4 separate regions of the Homo sapiens genome follow, and regions 1, 3 and 4 are each linked to region 2. Evidence: fine-mapped expression QTL. A gene starts in region 2. Each other region holds a variant in brackets. All regions are shown on one strand. Distances are between the middles of the regions.

Region 1 (5,585 bases), 820 kb before region 2:
ATGGTATAGCACTGTTACGTGAATTGATTTCTTACCTTTTGGAGCCGCATGATGTCGCTGTCTACCATGAAGTTATAGCTAGCCAACATTCAAATTTCTTCTATTACTGCATCATTCCCTGACTGTTGAATGATGGCGGACGCAGAAGAAATGGATTAATAAATTCCGGAACATACAGTATTTTATCTTTATGCGGAAGATCTTCTAATGGAAATAAAACCAGAGGTATTTGACATGGTGTTTACCCCGGAGGATAGATTGGGAAAGCAATGTCTGCTCCTCCCGCTTCTGCTCCTCGCAGCCTGGAAGGTGGGGAGCGGCCAGCTCCACTACTCCGTACCCGAGGAGGCCAAACACGGCACCTTCGTGGGCCGGATCGCGCAGGACCTGGGGCTGGAGCTGGCGGAGCTGGTGCCGCGCCTGTTCAGGATGGCCTCCAAAGACCGCGAGGACCTTCTGGAGGTAAATCTGCAGAATGGCATTTTGTTTGTGAATTCTCGGATCGACCGCGAGGAGCTGTGCGGGCGGAGCGCGGAGTGCAGCATCCACCTGGAGGTGATCGTGGACAGGCCGCTGCAGGTTTTCCATGTGGACGTGGAGGTGAGGGACATTAACGACAACCCGCCCTTGTTCCCGGTAGAGGAACAAAGAGTGCTGATTTACGAATCTAGGCTGCCAGATTCTGTGTTTCCACTGGAGGGCGCGTCCGATGCAGATGTTGGCTCAAATTCCATCTTAACCTATAAACTCAGTTCTAGCGAATACTTCGGGCTAGATGTGAAAATAAACAGTGATGACAATAAACAAATTGGGCTCTTATTAAAGAAATCCTTGGACAGAGAGGAAGCTCCTGCACACAACTTATTCCTGACAGCCACAGATGGGGGCAAACCTGAGCTCACAGGCACTGTTCAGCTGCTGGTCACAGTGCTGGATGTGAATGATAATGCTCCCACTTTCGAACAGTCTGAATACGAAGTAAGAATATTCGAAAATGCAGACAACGGAACAACAGTTATCAGACTGAATGCTTCTGATCGGGATGAAGGAGCGAATGGGGCAATTTCATATTCTTTTAATAGCCTTGTTGCAGCCATGGTTATTGACCACTTTAGCATAGATCGAAATACGGGAGAAATAGTGATTCGGGGTAATTTGGATTTTGAACAAGAAAACTTATACAAAATCCTCATTGACGCCACGGACAAAGGCCATCCTCCCATGGCGGGTCATTGCACCGTTTTAGTGAGAATTTTGGATAAAAATGATAACGTCCCTGAGATAGCACTGACTTCCTTATCCTTGCCTGTACGTGAAGACGCTCAATTTGGTACTGTCATCGCCCTAATTAGCGTGAACGACCTCGATTCAGGTGCCAACGGGCAGGTGAACTGCTCGCTGACGCCTCACGTCCCTTTCAAGCTGGTGTCCACCTTCAAGAATTACTACTCGTTGGTGCTGGACAGTGCCCTGGACCGCGAGAGCGTGTCGGCCTATGAGTTGGTGGTAACCGCGCGGGACGGGGGCTCGCCTTCGCTGTGGGCCACCGCCAGCTTGTCTGTGGAGGTGGCCGACATGAATGACAATGCTCCGGCGTTCGCGCAGCCCGAGTACACAGTGTTCGTGAAGGAGAACAACCCGCCGGGCTGCCACATCTTCACGGTGTCTGCGCGAGACGCGGACGCGCAGGAGAACGCGCTGGTGTCCTACTCGCTGGTGGAGCGGCGGGTGGGCGAGCGCGCGTTGTCGAGCTACATTTCGGTGCACGCGGAGAGCGGCAAGGTGTACGCGCTGCAGCCGCTGGACCACGAGGAGCTAGAGCTGCTGCAGTTTCAGGTGAGCGCGCGCGACGCGGGCGTGCCGCCTCTGGGCAGCAACGTGACGCTGCAGGTGTTCGTGCTGGACGAGAACGACAACGCGCCGGCGCTGCTGGCGCCTCGGGTGGGTGGTACTGGTGGTGCAGTGAGCGAGCTGGTGCCGCGGTCACTGGGTGCAGGCCAAGTGGTGGCGAAGGTGCGCGCAGTTGACGCCGACTCAGGCTACAACGCGTGGCTTTCGTATGAGCTGCAGCCCCCGGCAAGCAGCGCTCGCTTCCCGTTTCGCGTGGGGCTGTACACGGGCGAGATCAGCACCACTCGTGTCCTGGACGAAGCGGACTCTCCGCGCCACCGGCTGCTGGTGCTGGTGAAAGACCACGGTGAGCCGGCGCTGACAGCGACGGCCACGGTTCTGGTGTCGCTGGTGGAGAGTGGCCAGGCTCCAAAGGCGTCATCACGGGCGTCGGTGGGCGCCGCGGGCCCAGAGGCGGCGCTGGTGGATGTCAACGTGTACCTGATCATCGCCATCTGCGCGGTATCCAGCCTGCTGGTCCTCACGCTACTGCTGTACACAGCGCTGCGGTGCTCGGCGCCACCCACCGAGGGCGCGTGCACGGCGGACAAGCCCACGCTGGTGTGCTCCAGCGCAGTGGGGAGCTGGTCGTACTCGCAGCAGAGGCGGCAGAGGGTGTGCTCCGGGGAGGGCCCACCCAAGATGGATCTCATGGCCTTTAGCCCCAGCCTTTCACCTTGTCCTATTATGATGGGTAAGG[C/T]GGAGAATCAGGATTTAAATGAAGATCATGATGCCAAAGTAAGTGAATTTTCATAATTAACAGTTAATTTTTATTTTAAATTTATAATTGTTTTCCTCATATTTGTCTTCTATATTTCTGTTTTTAATTTTTAATTAATTTTACAAAATTACATATTTTCATTTTATTGTGTTTCTTATTTTAATCTCTTTGCTTCTTTAATATTCATAATTTAAGTGAAATTAGAAATCACTGTCCACAATCTGCACCTCAGAATTTTTGTCTTCAAACCAAAATATTCTTGGATATGTCGTTTTCTGTTGCATTTTAATTCAGAATCATAGTAGCATTTTTTTCTGATTAATTATATGGGATTTTCATTTGTTTGCCTTTGAGCTTTAGGATAATTTTTTTACATATACTCTTTTTTGATCATATATTGAAATTTGAGCACCAGTGTATCACTTATGTTTTTACACTTTCCATTTCAATGTTTTTCTGTCGACACTTTTATTAAGCTAACGCTTTGATTTTATCCATTTTGTGTAAGAACTCTGATCATCATAGTTTTTATCTGTGGTTCCCTTTTCAGACTTGTGATTCCGGGAGGCAATAGTGTTCATTTATTGTCCCCCTTTTAAACCATTGAGGAATAAAGGACAAAAACAATAGTTATCAGCCTGAATACTTCTGGTTGTTATGGTTATTGATTTATTTACTACCGATCTAAATAATGGAAAAATAGTGATTCAACAGAATTTAGACCTTGTGATCAAGTAAATTTATATGAAAACTGCATTCCTCTGGCATTGCGGCTCTCTTATTTCTGTTTGAATTTCACTTGATGGTCTTCTCTTCATGGAGTCTAAATCTATTTCTTTGTATTAGTGTTTTCATTGTTTCTACACAGTAATTTAAACTATTCACTATTTTGTATGTGTGTGTGTGTGTGTGACAGGGTCTTGCTCTGTCACCCATGCTGGAGTACAGTGGTGCAATAATGGCTCACTGCACCCTCGAATGCCTGGGCTCAAGTGATTCTCTCACCTCAGCCTCTGGAGTTACTACACACGAGCACCACCATGCCCCCCACCTTTTTTTTTTTTTTTTTTTTTTTTAAGAGATGGGGTTTCTCCATGTTGCCCAGGCTGGTCTCAAACTACTGGGTGCAAGTGATCTGCCCACCTTGGCCTCCCAAAGTACTAAGATTATAGGTGTGAGCCACTATGCTTGGCTAGTCATTATTTCTTTGAATGAAAAGCAGCAAAAAGTAGTGATTAAGTGTGAGTTTTGGTGTTATCCTCCCTTGCCTAAATTTCATCGCTACCAATTTTGTTTTGTGGATGGATTGTTTCACCTCTATTTCAGTTTCTTCTGTAAAGTTGGAATGATAAACACTAGTTTCAATGATAGAATTGTCATAAAGCTTTAGTAAGTTGATATTGTAAGGCGCTTATAACTGTGTTTGCCAAATAGCAAGTGCTTAAAAAATTTGCTACTAGTTTTCCGAAGAGGAAAAGAAAAACTTTATGTCATTTTATGCTAGGAAACTCTCATTACGGATTCCATATTGTTTTCATTTTACGTAAAGATTGAATTTTTGTTATTCATAGTGAGGCCATAATTACCAATTTAATCTGAGATGTCTCTAACATTTTAAATGCCATGTTCTACATTAAAAGCAATTTAAAATGTGTGTTTCAAAGTTGAAAATTGAATTAAGACTTGGACAGTGGAAAAGTTTTATGAATTCAAAAGACATTTAACCTGCTGAGTCCTCAGTGATTTCCTGGAGTTGGTTTTGACTTTTTGTGTTGTCCATGTTCCCAGGAAATATTAGACTACATTAAGCATGAATGGTGTATTTGCCCACATTTAAAAGTTGCTTAAGGGCCATTAGAGGACTGAGTTGTGGTTTGTGTTTCCTAATGTGAGCATTTTCCATTCTTGAAATGGCAGAAACTGGTAGTGGTATTTTCTGTTTTCTAAAAGAAGTACATGATAATTTTTAAGCGTGTAATTAATATTGCACTAAAATTTAAAAAAACTAACTCTACATACTTAAGAGTGGCAGAATTGTCTCTGATTATACTGAAGATCACCATTTGTGTAGCTAATGATATCTAACAGCCTCAAAACAGCATACTTTCTTAGGAAGTAGAGAACTATAGCGTTGCTAGTGAGTAAATGTTTTTTAAAAAGTTCCTAGGAGGGTCTTTAAGAGTATCACACTGTGCCTGCTGAGAATCATCGAATTAACAAGACCTGGCTTCAAATTTAATAGATAAATAAAGGTAAGTATCCTACATAAATACGATGATAGTAAAAGCAAGAATATTGTAAGAGGTGCTAGAAAGGTACATCATAGTGTTATTGGAATTGGAAAAAAATCTTTGCCTTTTTCCCTTGTTGAAGGAGACCGTGAAGAGTCATGATGTTTTACTGGTTATAAAATGGAAAGAGTTTTCCCTGGGAGAATATGGAGACTAACAGGTATTCATGAGAAGAGAGTAACTTAAGTGAGTATACAGAAAATTCCAAATGTACCTAGAAATGAGGAATAGTCCACTTTGGGTAAAGCACATGGTTCCCATAAGAGAGAGTGTGATATAAAGCAAGAAAAGTAATATGAGAAAAACCTTTTGTATAACTTTGAGTACTAGACGAGTAATTTTGACACTCTTCAAAGTCATTTGAAAGCTGTCAAAAAGTGTGAAGCAATACGAATAAAAAGTATTAACGGAAGATGACTGCAAGGATTAAATGAAGGAGAATGAAATAGGAATGGACAGGTTACACAATAAGAAGCTACTGCAATACACCAGGAGAGCAGCAATTATAAAAACTTATTTAGGAAAGCATCTGAATACAGACATAATTATTTTACATGCCATTGGGAACATTGGAGTGAAACATTCCAGAAAACGAACACAGTAAGGTAGATCCAAAAAGGATGAAATACCTCAAGACTTGATCAAAGGGCTGCTGTATGTGAGATGGCTGAGCACTGAAATTT
Region 2 (5,493 bases):
CCAGCCATACTGGCCCTCTCTCAGTTCCTCGAGCCTACAAAGTTATTCCCACCTCAGACCCTTTGCACTCACCATTTCTTCTCTCTGCAATGTTCTTCCCCTAGATCTTTGCAAGGCCAGCTCCTTCTTGACAGTTAGGCCACCTATTCAGAGAGGCCTCCCTCTAAATTCTACCCCCTTGTTATTCTTTATCATAGTACCTTGTTTTATTTTCATCTTAATCTAAGTATTTATTTGCTGTCTGTCTCTCTTAACCAGACTGTGAGGGCAGGAACTCCATTGGTAGTGTTCTCCACTGTATCCATAATGTCTAGAACAGTGCCTATTATATACAGATCCTCAATAAATGCATATTAAAGGACTGAAAAAGAAGGGTATTCTCTCCATTTTATAGAAGAAAATAAGGCTCACAGAGATCAAGTAAATTAACCAAGGTTACCCACCCAGGAAGTAGGAGAGCCTGGATTCAACCCAGTCTTTCATACATATGCACCTATGTTCCAAACCACTAGACTACTCTGCCTCCCTCTTCCCTGCCCCCACTCATGCCCTCATCCCTCGAACCTTGGTGCTCAGTTTCTGGAGACTGGTCCGAGAGTGGAAGATCCCATGGTCACTTCGGTTTAGCCTGTGCAGATGAGAGAAAGGAGTCAGGCCCACCCCAAGTGGGAGAATATGAGATCAGAGTCAGGCCCAGCTTTGGTGACTTGGCTCCACCCCTAGACAGCCCCACCTCCCTGTTCCCCAACCTTGGGCTTCCTCACTCTCCATGACCCCACCTGGCCTGGACATCAGCCGCCTTCTCCTGTGCCAAGGCCCACACACGTTCCCGCTGCCCATACAGCTTCCGACTTCGGCTCAGCTCCCGGACAGACTGCAGCACCTCAGCCTGCGCCCTCTGGAGGTTCTCTGTTCCCTATTGGGATGCATACACAAAGTCCTTACCTAGACCACCTTTGGTCCCAAGCCAGCTCTTCCTTCACCCCAACCTCTGAGCCATACCTTCCTAAGCACCTGCTCCTTGGCGCTCCGCCCTGTACCCCCTGCTAGGTCACGGTATCGGTCAGACGCCTGGAGTCGGGTTTGGCCCCCAGCCACGGTGGCATCCAGCAGGCAGCGCCAGGCACCGAACACTGTCCTGCCCCTCCCCAGAGAAGGTCTGTGTTGAGGAGGAGAGCACTCCACAGCTTCATGAGACCACCCCCACCCCCTGCCCCCTGACCAACACCATGGGAGACAGAGTGCTTTCCCATCCTCCCTTGTCTGGGAGCCCATCAATCGATCAGCCCATTAGCTCAGCCACAAGCCTCACTCCTGCCCTCCACCCCACCCACAGTGTCCTTGCTGGGTCAGCTCCTCTGCTGCTGCTGTGTCAGCTCTACCTACAGCTCACGTGCCTTCCCCACTTGCTAGGCCTTCATCCCCACAGGTTCCTGGGGCTGAGCTCCCCATCACTTTTTGGCCTCTGTGGCCCTCCCCCTCCATAGGGCCCACCTGCTGTCCATCTCACCGCTCCGGTGCCCTTCCCTCTTCAGGAATGGGCCAGCCAGTTTCTGGAGTGCCTGGTGAAAAAGCCATCACAGAACCAAGTTCCCTTTCAAAGACCCACCCCAACTGGCAGAATATGACATCAGAGTATAATCATACCATTCTTTGGGTACATTATGTGCCACTTGCTTTGCTAAATGCCTTATAGTCATTAATTTGTTTAATCCTTACAACAACCCTACATGAAGGTAAGGTATTATTATTATTCCCATTTCACAGAGAAAGAAACTGAGGTCAAGAAAGGTTAAGTAACTTGTCCAAGGTCACATGGCTATAATTACACAGCAGGGATCTGACACCAGTCTGCTTGACTCTAGGCATCTGCTCTTGACCACAATAGGGATAGGTATGGACAGACATTACTGGTGATATAAGAGAGGCTGGAACAAGAGGTAAGGTCCAGAGAAAAGTCCCATACCTGCCCATACTCCCGTTCAATGGCTGCCCTCTGCTTGCTGTAGGATCTGCGGAGATTGCAGGTCGGGGGTGAGGTGGGGGATAAGGTTATGTTTGGTCCTGTTCTCCCATCCTCAGTCCTCTACTCTGGGCAGGAGGGAGCGGTTGGGGGGAGCCAGGTTCCTAGAGTGTAACTACACCCAGAGGGAATGGGACTGATGGGAGTCCTTGAGATCACCTCGGGCAGCTGCAACACAGGAAACCCTCACCTTACTGCCCCGGGCCCCAGCAGGATCCTCCCCACCCCAGAGGTTCATCTGTAGGCTTAGAGGTGAAGACTGATGGGGGCCTGGGTACGATGTCTGCCAGCCTTCCAACAGGTCTGGAAGAGGGAGAGGGATTCTGCCCTAAGGTTGATTGTGGGGTTGGGGGCAGTGGTGTGGAGTCAAGGGCTTTGAGGGAGGGTTCCTGTGTGTTTATGTGGGTGGGAGGGGGTTGGGAGGGGTTAGGTGGGGGAGCATTCCTATCCAGTATCTGGAGAGGCCAGGCCTAGGGTGAGGGCTGTGGATGGGTCGGCTGGGGAGCTCTTGGCCCCTGTTCCTCCACCCCAGCACATGTATATTGGGGAGAAGTGGCGCACAACGACGAAGGTGAGTGTAAATGAAGGGGGTTGGGGGAGCTACCTGATGTCCTCCAGCAGATCCGCCTCCCTCTGCTGCCAGGTCTGAAGGATGCTCAGCTGTTCCAGGAAGCGAAGCTTCACCTCCTGGGCCGGCTTCACCTGTGGGGGCAAAGAGAGGATGAAGACCCCAGCGCAAGGACCTAAAAAACACTCCGCGCAGGGAGCGGTGAGGGGGCGGGGCCGGGGGGGTGCTGAGCTCTTTCCTCTGTTACTTCTGGTTTGGGGTCTGACCCCTTCCGACTTCCCGTCTCCTACCACAAGTCGGATGCCCCCTTAGCTCCCTCCGTTCCCCCAGCCCGCCAGGAGTCCCCATTCAGGGCCAAGCTCACTTTTCGGGGCGGCGGCTGCATCTCCGCTCCAGCAAGGCGGTCAGCCACTGGACTCCGGAACTGGAGGAAGCCCCGCCCACTATGGAGCCCCGCCCCAGGCCAGGTCAGGCCCCGCCCTCTGCCCGCCCACGACTTGTCCGGCGACGTCGCAGGGCGCGGAAGCGAGAGGGGGCCACCGAGAAACTAAACCTGTTACTGCTGCGAATACGCCGGCAGGGTCCGGGTGGCGGGGCGGGCGGGGCGGACGCAGCGTCCGCTGGGCGGTGGGAAGAACCCCAGGCATCTGAGTCAAGACGCCTAAGTTCTATTTGTAGTGTAACCACTGATTCAGCCTGTAATTATTGATAATTATTCATTTGCATATGTAGATCCCCAGTCCCCGAGCTAATGATGAGGAATGGAGAGGAATTCAGTGTGTGACCAGGGAAACTGAGTCACTGGGCACCTGAGCAAAGATGCATCTGACGAAGAGAGGGCTGGTCCCAGACCTTTTCCTAATTCCCGCTTAACTGGAAAAGCCAGCGTGAGCGGGGTGAGAAAGATGCCTGGATCCAGGAAGGAACCAGGCCCAAAGGGAAAAAGACTTGGCCCCACTGAAAACTAAACGATACCAGTGAGTCGGCGAGAGCTGGGAGATGCGCAGGAAGCCCCTGCCACCTTTAGGATCTTCCAGCCCTAGCACTGCTTCCTGAGGAGCCTCTCCCCAATTCCTCATCCTCCTCACCTAAGCTTCTTTGGCTCAGGCACCTGTCCCAGTACCCCTGACATGTCTCAAAACTCCAGATTCACATTCCAACTCCCCACTGACACCTCTGCTAGTATATCTAATAGGAACCTCAACTTTTAAAGCTTTTAAACCTCCTTCAACCTGATCCTCCCCCCGTAACGTTTTAAATGGCACCGCATTTCCTCCAGTCAGTTAAGTCAGAAACCCAGAGTCAATGTGCCTTCTCCTACCCCTACATTCTATCCATCAGTAAGTCCTACAGGTTCTATTTCAAACAACAATAAACAAACAAAAACCTCTTGATCCACTTCCCTCAATTTCCAAGACCACCATCCTAGTCCAAGCCCCCATTATTAGACTTCTGGTCTAATATCTGATCTCCTTGCTTCCACACTGCCCTCACCCCAACCCACTGTTCACACAGCACTCAGAGTGATCAACCTTTTTTTTCTTTTTTAAAGGGAAATAAGATCTCATAATTTACTTGCTTAAAATGCACTTGCTTCAGAATAAAATCCAAATAGAATCCATGGCCTTCAAGGCTACGCATGGAAGACCCTGCTGGTCTTTCTTACTTCAGCCTGTACTCTCCTCCCACTGTCTGCTCACTGTGCTCCAGCCTCTTTGCTGTTCCCTCAGTAGACCAAGTCCCTTCCAATGCAGAGTTCTTCATGCCTGCTTTCTTTCTCCAGAATCTCCTCCTTCCAGCGTTCCATCTGTCGCCTCCAACAGCTTCTTTCCCTTACTTTGCAACTCTTCACAGATGCCTTCCCCATCCACCCATCCAAAGACCATCTCCACAATCACTCTTTTTTTTTTGAGATGGAGTCTTGCTCTGTTGCCAGGCTGGAGTGCAATGGTGCAATCTCGGCTCACTGCAACCTCCACCTACCAGGTTCAAGTGATTCTTCTGCTTCAGCCTCCCGAGTAGCTGGGATTACAAGCACGTGCCACCACAACCAGCTAATTTTGTATTTTTAGTAGAGACAGGGTTTCACCATCTTTGCCAGGATGGTCTCAAACTCCTGACCTCAGGTAATCCATCCCCCTCAGCCTCCCAAAGTGCTGGGATTACAGGTGTGAGCCACTGCGCCTGGCCTCCACAATCACTCTTCAAGCTCATCACTTTGGTTCAGTTTCTTCACAGCACTAAACTCACTTGTTCAAGTACTGGTTTATGTGTTTATTTGCTATTTTCTGTTCCCCTCCACAACGGAGGATTCATAAGAGCAGGGGCCCTGTTTGTTTTGTTCATGCTATATCCCCAGACCTGGCACCAATTAGGTGCACAATACATATTTGTTGAATGAATGAATGAGAATGGTAGTCTTTTGGTTCCCAGGTTTATTGACAATTACTCATCTATTTTTGACTCCCCGAGTCCCAGCTCCCAAACTCGCTCTCCCTACTCCAGGCTTCACGGTAGTCCCAGAATGTAGGAAGTGGGACAGGATAGACTTTAACATCACCCAGGCCTCTGGTTTCCAAAGCATTTTTTTTCTTTAATGCAGTAAAACCATTCCTTTAAAACCCAAAATCTCTCATGGAACCCCTACGTATCAAATATATAAAGCAGGAGCTGCCCTTGTTCAGGGATAATATGTGGGGCTTATGGCTCTAAGAAACACAGTTTGACATTCACTGCTCTCCTTACTTCAGTTACCTCATGGTATAGATAAATGGGCTGGGCCCAGAGAGGGGCCATGACCTGTCCTGGGACACGCAGCCACTGAAGCCTTTAGTCCAGTGCTCCTTCCACAGCACCACACTGGATTCTGGAGTCTTTCCAGCCAGGGCAGAGGAAGCTGCAA
Region 3 (5,585 bases), 40 kb before region 2:
AACAGAAACTCTTCCCTACTCCTCACCACTAGTCACCAGAAACAAATCCCAGTTCCAGGTACTTGGACCTCTGTGGCAATGTCTTAATTATTAACCACTGGCAAATAACTGCCAGGTCTAAAGAACAAACTTCAGCAGTTCCCAGACTCAGAAGAGATCCTGGTTATTAGCCATTTGCAATCATTACAACAGTCAAATTTCAGGAGCACAAACAGAGGTCTTTAAGAATACCAAACGTCAAATTTAAAATATAAAAAGGATAACTATAGAGACAGTCTAGTAACAGCTTCCCCCTTCCTGTAACATTGTTACCACTACTTGTGGCTCTCAGCAATTTAAACAACTAAAACTCCTGACAGGTGATGATGTTAGAGCTGTTCTACTTACAAAGGAGACACAGTTACATTAAAAAATAATAATTTAAGCATCATCCTAATAACGCATGAGCCAAGCGAAAGATAGGTTTTGCAAGCACTGTAATAGCTATTTTTTCATGCCTAAAAAAGGTTTAATTAAGATTCTTCCAATGGCTTCAAAGTCTAAATTACTAAATGCAAAAAAAAAAAAAAAAAAACAGGCATTTAGCCACTACGCTTTTTACATCTAAGCCTAGTACTTTTTTCCTGCCAACTGAACTCTAGGAGAATCCAGTTCATTTTAATAGACTGTAGATGACCAAAGAACTCTAAGGGAATACCACCAAAATTTTCTAAGAAATTCCTAGCAGTGAATAGTTACACTGCAGTCCAGTTTTACACTGCAGGCACAAAAACTGGACACACATAAACTGTCAGTACAATGTAGTGAGTAAGTCCATGAGTTTTGAATCAGCTAGGCCTAGGTTTGAATCCTAGCTCTGTCACTAACTAGTTCTATGTCTTCAAGCAGGCTGCTTGATCTGAGTTCCAGTTTCATTACCTATAAAATGGGAATAATAACAGTACCTATTTTATAAGGTCAATGTAGAGATTAATGAGATAATAAATCTAAGGCTCTTTAGCACTGCACTAGGGATACAGTTAAGTATGCAACAAACAACTGCTTTTATTACTGCTACTGTTGTTATTCCCTATCCTAGTCTGGAATGAATTAATTTTCCTTATCTATAAAGATGCTAAACATTCATTAATATTTAGAAACAGGAAGACTGGCATTACACAATCTGTAGTATACTGAATACAGGAAAACAAAAGGTTGCTAACACCACCACCTAACAAGAAAAAAATGCTTCCACGATAAATGGAATGAAAGTCCCGAAATCCTCAGAGTATCAGAAATGTTCTCTGTTGACCACAGGTGACAATTTATATCCCAAAGTGAACATGTGGAACTCACATATGCATGATAGAAAAGAGGGAAATTTAAAAGCTAAATCTATACAAGTTCTAGAAGAAAAGAGAGAAGCCGAGCACAGTGGCTCACACTTGTAATCACAGGGCTTTGGGAGGCCAAGGCAGGAGGATCACTTGACGCTAGGAGTTCGAGACCAGCCTGGGCAACATAGTGAGACCCCATTTCTTTCTTTCTTTCTTTCTTTTTTTTCTGAGTTGGAGTCTCGCTCTGTCGCCCAAGGGTGACATGATGTATGGCTCACTGCAACCTCCGTCTCCTGGGTTCAAGCAATTCTCCTGCCTCAGCCTCCCAAGTAGCTAGGATTACAGGCACCCACCACCACACCCGGCTAATTTTTTTGTTTTGTTTTGTTTTTGAGACAGTCTCACTCTGTCGCCAGGCTGGAGTGCAGTGGCACAACCTCGGCTCACTGCAACCTCCACCTCCCAGGTTCAAGCAATTCTCCTGCCTCAGCCTCCCGAGTAGCTGGGATTACAGGCACGCACCACCACGCCCAGCTAAGTTTTGTATTTTTAGTAGAGACGGGGTTTCACCATGTTGGCCAGGATGGTCTCGATCTCTTCATCTCGTGATCCGCCCACCCTGACCTCCCAAAGTGCTGGGATTACAGGTGTGAGCCACTGTGCCCAGCCCAATTTTTGTATTTTTAGTAGAAATGGGGTTTCACCACATTGGACAGGCTGGTCTCTTGGCCAGGCTGGTCTCAAACTCCTGACCTCGTGATCTGCCCACCTCAGCCTCCGAGAGTGCTGGGATTACAGACATGAGCCACCGTACCCCGCCTAGCGAGACGTCATTTCTACAAAAATAAAACATAAAAAAAATTAGGCCAGGTGCAGTGACTCATGCCTTAATGCCAGCACTTTGGGAAGCCAAGGTAGGAGGATCACTTGAGCCCAAGAGTTCAAGACCAGCCTGGGCAACATAGTGAAACCCCACCACTATAAAAAAAAAAAAAAGAAAAAGAAAAAAATCAGCCAGGCATTGTGGTGCATGCCGGTAGTCCCAGATACTCCAGGAGACCGAGGCAGCTGGATTGCTTGAGCCCAGGAGGTCGATGCTGCAACTGAGTTGTCATTGCACCACTGCACTCCAGATTGGGTGACAGAGTGAGACTCTGCCTCAAAAAAAGAAAAAAAGAAAAGAAAAGAAAAGAAAAATTAGCCAGGCATGGTGGTCCCAGGTACTGGGGAGGCTGAGCCCAGGAGTTTCAAGGCTGCAGTGACCTATGATTGTGCCACTGCACTCCAGACCAGGCAACAAAGTGAGATCCATTCTCTTTTAACAACAACAAAAAACAAAACAGAGGAGAAAACCTTAGCGACCATAATTTTAGCAAAGATTTTTGAAATGTAACACACAAAACAAAAATGAAAAAAAATTGGACTCCATCAAAATTAAGTTTTTTGGTTCTTCAAAATACACTGTTAGGAAAATGAAAAGACAGCCAGAAGTGGTGACACACGCCTGTAGTCCCAGCTACTTGTGAGGCTGAGGCAGGATTCCTGAAGCCCAGGAGATTAAGGCTGCAGTGAGCCATGACTGCACTACTGCATTCCAACTTAGGCAACAGAGTGAGACTACCATTTCAAAGACAGAATGAAAGACAGACAAAAGAAAGTCAGACAGACAAAAGAAAGACAAAAGACAGAAAGGAAGGAAGGAAGGAAAAATCATGAGCAGATTCTTCACGGACGATACATAGATAGCAAATGGGCAAAATCTTGAACAGATTCTTAAGAAAGATATATAAACAGCAAGTAAGGACAAGAAAAGATGTTCAACATCATTAGGGAATGACAAATTAAAGCATACTGCAGCTGGGCACAGTGGCTCACGCCTGTAATCCCAGCACTTTGGGAGGCCCAGGCAGGTGGATCACCTGAAGTTAGGAGTTCAAGACCAGCTTGGCCAACATGATGAAACCCCATCTCTACTAAAAATACAAAAATTAGCTGGGTGTGGTGGCAGCCTCCTGTAATCCCAGCTACTCAGGTGGCTGAGGCAGGAGAATCCCTTGAACCTGGGAGGCAGAGGCTCCGGTAAGCCGAGATTATGCCACTGTACTCCAGCCTGAGCGACGAGAGTGAAACTCTGTCTCAAAAAA[T/TAATA]AATAAATAAATAAATAAATAAATAAAGCATACTGAGATATCATCACATACCCACTAGAATGGCTAAAATTTAAGACTGATCATACTAACAGTTGACAGGAAATTGGAACTTTTACACATTGCTGGTAAGAATGTAAAATGAAAACAGTTTGGAAAACAGTTTGAAAACAGTTTGGCAATTTCTCAATTAAGCATAGATCTACCAAATGACCCAGTCATTCCACTCATGGGTACTTACCCAAGAGAAATGAAGACATATGTCCAGCCCAAAAAGTTGTATGAGAATGTTCACAGACAAAAACTGCACTCCCAAAACTGGGAACACCCCAAATGTCCATCAATAGGGTAAATGAATAAACAAATTGTGTAAATCCATACAATGTAATAGTACTCAGCAATATAAAGGATTAAGCTATTGATATATGAAAGACCACACATCACAATAAAAGAAGCCCCAGCAAAAGGGTTCATACTGTATGATTCCATTTATATAAAATTCTAGAAAACACAAACTAATCTATAGTTACAGAAAGAAAATTAGTGGTAATCTGGAGATGGGAGGACGAGGATGGGTGAGAGGGAGGGATAACAAAGAGAGAAGGAGGAAACTTGAAGGTGACTGCTATATTCATTATCTTGACTATAGAAATGGTTTCATGAATAAATATGCAGTTTATTGTATTTTAATTATATATCAATAATGCTGTAAAAATAGAGATGAAGGGTATCTTTTCTACTTGATCTTAAAGTTCTGACACTGAAAATAAAACACAGACAGATCTGAGATGTAAGGCCAACTACCAACGTATGCTCTTTGGTTTTCTGTGACCTTCAGTATCAAAAATGGTTTATAAATCATCCTGTCTTGGGTCCTTACAGTATTTTAAATCTTAAAAGAAATTACAAATCCAAAGCCTTCAGATGACACTACTCACAAGACAGGAAATAAGTCACAAAATCAGAAATCCAGAAAATTATACAGGACACCATAAATTCTACCTATATTTGCCACCCTAACAAAATTCCCAGATAGCTACTAAGGACCAGTCATATCCACCACCAAGGATGGAATTTTCCCATCCTCCATAAGAGAATGTTTCCTTTAATTCAATTCCATTATGCTAACTCTCATTTGCATCCCCTTATCTGTTCTATCCCCCGCCTTGGAGGAAAGAAATTTAAACAAATATTTAAAGGGCAAACTGACTCTCCCTAACTGTTACAGAGCCAAGCAATAGAGAGCCAATTTCTTCAATCTTTTTCCTTTCAATCTCACAGCTTCTAGTATATCTGTTCCTTTTATATAATCTCTTTCTACTACTCCAGCCATTCCCAAGATCCTAAAATTTAGTAAAGAAAATGTAGAATCCAAAATTTCTGCTCCTCTTCCTCCACTTGTTCATCCAATTTCCACCTCTTAGCCCCCTGATGTTTCCAACCTACAACTGCAGAAGTGACTGTTGCACTGAGTGGGTGTTTGGACTTGATGACATTTAAAGTCCCTTCCAACTCTGAAGTTTTAAGGGTACCATTCACAGTAAGATTTAATAATGGATGGAAGTAAGAATTTCAAAGTTGAAAGAACAATGAGAGTTATCTTGTAATCAGTGGTAAAATTCATTAAAATATTAGTCTATTTCTCTTTTCCTTCAGTAATTCTTTTACTTCCTTAAAAAGGGTTTCTTGATCCTAAGAAACGTGTTAAAAAAAAGGAGAAATACAGTAAAATATGTTCATAGTAATTATTCTTTACTTTTCAATTTTAGCTTAAAAGTTTTAAGAAATTTTATTATCAACAGCTTCTGACTGCCCCTAATTCCCCAAAGGCCTGGCTATTCATAGCGCTCAAATCAGCCCCCACGTAAGTAGGAAAGGAATAAAAACACAGGGAGGAGGTGACAGGCAGCCAGGCAAGGGGAGAGTGTGGCTTTGTCTCACCTAACCCCAAGGAGGGGCAAACATCCAATGCTTTGCTGGTAGCATAAAATGAATTTTTTGCCTACTGCTTTCAAACAAAGGTAATTGAGAAAAGGAGGCTCAATGAAAAAAGAAAACCACTTAAGTAATACAAAGTTTGTTTCAAAATGGGGATGATTTTTGTAGCCATAAATAATTTCAGCTACTG
Region 4 (5,585 bases), 790 kb before region 2:
CTGGTGTCCTACTCTCTGGTGGAGCGGCGGTTGGGCGAGCGCTCGCTGTCGAGCTACGTGTCGGTGCACGCGGAGAGCGGCAAGGTGTACGCGCTGCAGCCGCTGGACCACGAGGAGCTGGAGCTGCTACAGTTCCAGGTGAGCGCGCGCGATGGGGGCGTGCCGCCTCTGGGCAGCAACTTGACGCTGCAGGTGTTCGTGCTGGACGAGAACGACAACGCTCCCGCGCTGCTGGCGTCTCCCGCTGGCAGCGCGGGCGGTGCAGTCAGTGAGCTGGTGCTGCGGTCGGTGGTTGCGGGTCACGTGGTGGCTAAGGTGCGCGCAGTGGACGCTGACTCTGGATACAACGCGTGGCTGTCGTATGAATTGCAGTCGGCGGCGGTTGGTGCACGCATCCCGTTTCGCGTGGGGCTGTACACGGGCGAGATCAGTACGACGCGCGCTCTGGATGAGACTGACTCGCCACGCCAGCGCCTACTGGTGCTGGTGAAGGACCATGGCGAGCCGTCGCTGACGGCCACGGCCACTGTGCTTGTGTCGCTTGTGGAGGGCAGCCAGGCACCCAAGGCCTCGTCGCGGGCTTCAGTGGGCGTGGCGCCCGAGGTGGCCCTGGTGGATGTCAACGTGTACCTGATCATCGCCATCTGCGCGGTGTCCAGCTTGCTGGTGCTCACGCTGCTGCTGTACACTGCACTGAGGTGCTCGGCGGCGCCCACCGAGGGCGCATGTGGGCCGGTGAAGCCCACGCTGGTGTGCTCTAGCGCGGTGGGGAGCTGGTCTTACTCGCAGCAGAGGCGGCAGAGGGTGTGTTCTGGGGAGGGCCTGCCCAAGGCGGACCTCATGGCCTTCAGCCCCAGCCTTCCACCATGCCCAATGGTAGATGTGGACGGGGAAGATCAGTCTATTGGAGGGGACCACTCTAGGAAGGTGGGTTATTACGTTTTCATTTTCCTTTTGTGCTTTATGAATAATATTTTCTCTTACCGCATTTTCTCAAATATGTATCAGAATATTTCATTTTTGTCTACATTCCATTTATGCTTGAATATTTCTAGTGATACCTTTGTAATATAATTTATTCCAGGAGTTTTAAAATTTTTTTATCCTACCCAGTGTGTCAGCCTTTGATTGGTACTTAAATTTTTTTAAATAACAATTTATTCTGAATACACTAATATTTTCCAATACAAATATGTGATATAGGTTGCAGTTCTGACGATTTACTTTCATAATCACTTTTCGTTACAAATATTTGTGAGATTAGTACTTCATGTTATTTCATTTCCAATCTAAATTTTGATTTGATTGTATTTGCATTACCAAAAAATTCCACTGATCTATATCTCTTCAGTGAAAATGTGTTTTCCTCCATGTGTAGAATATGTGTAGCGTACCACAGCTTATACTGCCATAGTAGATTTCAATGTTCAGTGATTACAGCTTTTTCTCAATAGTGCAGTAAGTAGGTGGGCAGTTCATTGGTAAAAATTTCTTAATCTTAGCAATTAAGTTAAATGCTTTGAACTTTAAAAACGTTTTCCATTTTTATTTTAGTTGTAGTGGTACCTGTGTCAGTGTGTATTATTCACTTAGCAGAAGAAAATGTATGTTTCTTTTATTTACATAATTTTATCCAGTAGCTCTTCATTATCTGCTCCTTTATCAGCATTAGGCATTGCTTATGATATTCAGGTATTAGCTCTTTCACTTTAAGGAAGGAGTCATGCTTATGTTTAATAATGAAGAGAATTTGAACACTTTTTACTTTTGAGACTGAAAATACTTTAGTATGAATTAATATTAAAAGTTTGAGGAGAAAATAAAATTAATGTTTTCTACTGATCTGATATATTGTATAGTTTAATAGCTTCTCTAGTCATCTTAAACAGGGTTGGGTTAGATGATATAGACTCAGAAATGAAAGCTAACTTAGTTGCAGAGTGACAAAACTACACTATCAATTGTGTTTTCCTGAAATTGGTTGTTACCTGATACCCATGATTTCATTTTTAAAAAAAATTTATTAATTCTAGTGTTACCAAACACCAATGCCATGAATTTGTCATCTTGCCTATGGCTCTTAGCAATTACTTTTTTCTTTCCTTTCTCTTTGAGTATGGAGATTGAATTTGTTACTCAGTACGTGCTTCACAAATAGCTTCAAATAAAATTAAAATTATTGTTCAAGTTTAGGAACAC[CA/C]AAAAAAAATTGTGGCAAGAATTTAAGCATGGCATTCTTTCAGTGTTAATACTCTCCATGCCCTGTCTCCAGCTCTTAGAAATTATAGATGCTAAGTTAATGCAGAGTTTAGAAGTGTATTTGTTATTTTATCAAATAGGTTTATGAAATATATACTTCCCCCTCTGATATTTTGAAAAAAAATCTTCCTTAATGTCTTATATTATAAGTAATATAAAAAACTTAGTAAAAACTCATATCAATTGTAAAAGTCTCAGGTATACAAGTGCATTAATCTCTCCATCAATACTAACTTAAGGCCAGGCATGGTGGCTCACACCTGTAATCCCAGCATTTTGAGAGGCCAAGGTGGGAGGATGGTTTGAGGCCAGGAGTTCAAGACCAACCTGGGCGACATAGGGATATCTTGTACTGTGTGTGTGTGTATATATATGTATATATGTGTATATATATATGTATATATATATGATGGGCTCTCCTTACATATATATCTATATATGTACTTATGTATATATAAGCCAGGCATGGTGGTACATGCCTTTAGTCCCTACTGTAGTGCTACTTGGGAGGGTGAGGTGGGAGGACGGCTTGAGCCTGGGAAGTTGAGGCTGCAGTGACCCATGATTGTGCCACTGCACTCCAGCCTGGATGACAAAGTGAGACCCTATTTCAAAAATTGAAAAAAGCAAAAGCAATAGTAACACCATTATCCTGCAAATATGATCTTTTTCATATTAATTCACGTGATAATACAGTTGGTGCAGTAGTACTTTATTTAGGATGTCTACATACAAGATAAAACTCTTCATGGAATTCTGATTTGTAAGACAAACCCACCTTTGAAGAGGTACTGATCATACACAAGAAGGTATAGGAAAGGAGTTGGAAGCTCACAAAGAGAAACATAAACATATGCAGGAATCAGGAACGAAGAAGATAAGTGAAATAATATGAAATCAAATGCACTTATGTTTTGAGCGACAGGATATTGTTGTTCTCCATGAAAAGTTTTTTTGGTTTTTTTGTTTTTTATTTTTTATTTTTTTGAGACGGAGTCTCGCTCTGTTGCCCAGGCTGGAGTGCAGTGGCACGATCTCGGCTCACTGCAAGCTCCGCCTCCCAGGTTCACGCTATTCTCCTGCCTCAGCCTCCGGAGTAGCTGGGACTACAGGTGCCCGCCAACACGCCAGGCTAATTTTTTGTATTTTTAGTAGAGACGAGGTTTCACCGTGTTAGCCAGGATGGTCTAGATCTCCTGACCTCGTGATCCACCGGCCTCGGCTTCCCAAAGTGCTGGCCGAGTGCCACCGCACCCGGCCGAAAGGTATTTTTTTTAACAGAAGAAAATCAGATTATTCCTAGATCAGAAAGAAGCTCCATTGTTCCTGTACTTTAAAAACTACAAACACCCATTAAGACCACTTGGAACCTCAGGAACAAGGACCAAAAGGTCTCAGAGGAACTAAGTCTTTCTAGTCATGAAATATTGTTTTACTAACCAAAAGAGAGGCATAATTTTAGCTGCTAGACAAAGTGGCCAGGAATCCCGGAGCCTACAGCACTGGCTTCTGCTCCTTGAATTTTGTGAAGCGGGAAAGGACCAGTTCCACTACACCATCCTGGAAGAGGCCAAGGACGGCACATAGCGTCTTCGCGGTCCCTATTGCGCAGGACCTGGGTCTGGAGCTTGTGGAGCTGATACCGCGCCTGTTTCAGTTGGATTCCAAAAGCCGCAGAAACCTTCTGGAGGTAAATCTGCAGAATGGCATTTTTGTGAGTTCTCTGATAGACCTCGAGGAGCTGTGTGGGAGGATCTCGGAGTGCAGCATCCACCTGGAAGTGATCGTGGACAAGCTGCTACAGGTTTTCCATGTGGAGGTGAAAGTGAAGAACAATAAAGACAACCTGCCAGTGTTCTCAGCAACACAAAAGAATCTGTTTCTGAAACGAGAGCTCTTGATTATCGTGTTTCACTAGAGGGTGTCTGTGATGCCGACGTCGGGGCCAATGCTCTGATGACTTACATACTGTGCCGCAATGATTATTTTTCCCTGGAAATACCAAGAGCAGGTAAAACCACTTGAAGGTGTATTTTAAAAATTCTTTCAGATAGGTAAGTCACTTCAGAGCTACTCTTGGTGCTCAAAGCAACTGATGGGGGCGAAGCTGAGCTGACAGGCACCAAAGCATTATATATCACAGCGCTGGATGTAAATGATGATGCCCAGTGTTTGACAAAGGAGTCTATCATGTGAAATTACTGGAAAATGCAAGAGAAGGTACACTGGTTATTAGACTTAACCCCTTGGATTTTGACGAGGGTTCAAACCGTCACATTGTTTCTTTGCAACTGATGTCTCCCCTAACATAGAAGCCCTTTTTCGCATAGATTCAGACAGTGGATAAATAAATGTAAAGATAGGTTTTGAGGAAACTAAATAATGAAAGATTCAAATACAGGCAGTTGACACAGGCAATTCCCCAATGTTTGATCACTGCACAGACTTGATAGAAGTCTTGGACATCAATGATAGTGTTCCAGAGTTAGCAGTAAGTCACTATCATTCCCTGTACAGGAGGACGCTCCACTGGGTACCGTCATAGCCCTAATCAGTGTAATTGACCCTAACTTCAGTGCCAAGGGACAGACGACCCGCACCCTGACTCCTCACGTCTCTTCAAGCTGGTGTCTACCTTCAAAAGGCGCTGCCCAGAAACTATTCGTTGGTACTCCACAGCGCCCTGGACCAAGAGAGCAAATCTATCCATTGTTGGTAATCGCTCGGAATGGGGACTCGCTTTCATTGTTGGCCACAGCCATCGGGTCCGTGGAAGTGGCCGAACAGTGAACCACAATGCCCTGGCGTTCCAGCAGCCCGAGTACATGGTGTTCGTGAAAGGTAACAACCCGCGGGGCTGCCACGACTTCACAGTGTCCGCGCGGGACCGGGACGCGCAGGAGAACGTGCTGGTGTCCTACTCGTTGATGGAACAGCGGGTGGGCGAGTGCGCGCTGTCTAGCTATGTGTGGGTGCACGCGGAGAGCGGCAAGAGGTACGCGTTGCAGCCACTGGACTACGAGGAGCTGGAGCTGCTGCAGTTCTAGGTGAGAGCGCGCGACGCGGGCATGCCGCCTCTGAGCAGCAATGTGACGCTGCCAGGTATTAGTGCTGGAACGACAACTTTGTCTGCGCTGCTGGCGCCTTGGGTGGGCTGGCGGCGCTGTGAGTGAGCTGGTGCGGTATTCAGTGGATGCAGGCCACTTGGTGGCGAAGGTGCGCACGGTGGACTCCAGCTATGACGCCTGGTTGTCGCAACAGCTGCATCTGTCAGCTGGCAGCACCCGTTCCACGTGGGGCTCTGCACGGGCGAGATCAGCACGACG

What was found. PIP is the estimated chance that this variant, and not a neighbour inherited with it, causes the effect.
Region 1: its variant is fine-mapped to the expression of FCHSD1 in whole blood (INTERVAL, PIP 0.96).
Region 3: its variant is fine-mapped to the expression of FCHSD1 in whole blood (INTERVAL, PIP 0.98).
Region 4: its variant is fine-mapped to the expression of FCHSD1 in whole blood (TOPMed, PIP above 0.99).

What each region holds. Positions count from the first base shown.
Region 1 is chr5:140,827,858-140,833,442 of GRCh38, forward strand. All of the region lies in intron 1 of PCDHA1 (protocadherin alpha 1), which reads left to right. The region is part of intron 1 of PCDHA2 (protocadherin alpha 2); the gene reads left to right. All of the region lies in intron 1 of PCDHA3 (protocadherin alpha 3), which reads left to right. All of the region lies in intron 1 of PCDHA4 (protocadherin alpha 4), which reads left to right. It also overlaps PCDHA5, PCDHA6 and PCDHA@. The variant C/T (reference allele first, on the strand shown) is at 2,591.
Region 2 is chr5:141,648,393-141,653,885 of GRCh38, forward strand. It overlaps FCHSD1 (FCH and double SH3 domains 1), which reads right to left and starts at 3,026. Exons shown (of 20, transcript NM_033449.3): 1 at 2,956-3,026; 2 at 2,628-2,725; 3 at 1,967-2,012; 4 at 1,495-1,562; 5 at 1,003-1,144; 6 at 780-916; 7 at 565-628. The coding sequence starts at 2,976. It overlaps ARAP3 (ArfGAP with RhoGAP domain, ankyrin repeat and PH domain 3), which reads right to left. Exons shown (of 33, transcript NM_022481.6): 33 at 5,010-5,493. RefSeq lists an enhancer at 1,048-1,626.
Region 3 is chr5:141,608,614-141,614,198 of GRCh38, forward strand. All of the region lies in intron 1 of DIAPH1 (diaphanous related formin 1), which reads right to left. Among named protein-coding and RNA genes, the nearest start is that of DIAPH1, 7.6 kb to the right of the region's middle. The variant T/TAATA (reference allele first, on the strand shown) is at 3,461.
Region 4 is chr5:140,857,510-140,863,094 of GRCh38, forward strand. All of the region lies in intron 1 of PCDHA1 (protocadherin alpha 1), which reads left to right. The region is part of intron 1 of PCDHA2 (protocadherin alpha 2); the gene reads left to right. All of the region lies in intron 1 of PCDHA3 (protocadherin alpha 3), which reads left to right. The region is part of intron 1 of PCDHA4 (protocadherin alpha 4); the gene reads left to right. It also overlaps PCDHA5, PCDHA6, PCDHA7, PCDHA8, PCDHA9 and PCDHA10, and 2 more genes. Among named protein-coding and RNA genes, the nearest start is that of PCDHA10, 4.4 kb to the left of the region's middle. The variant CA/C (reference allele first, on the strand shown) is at 2,200.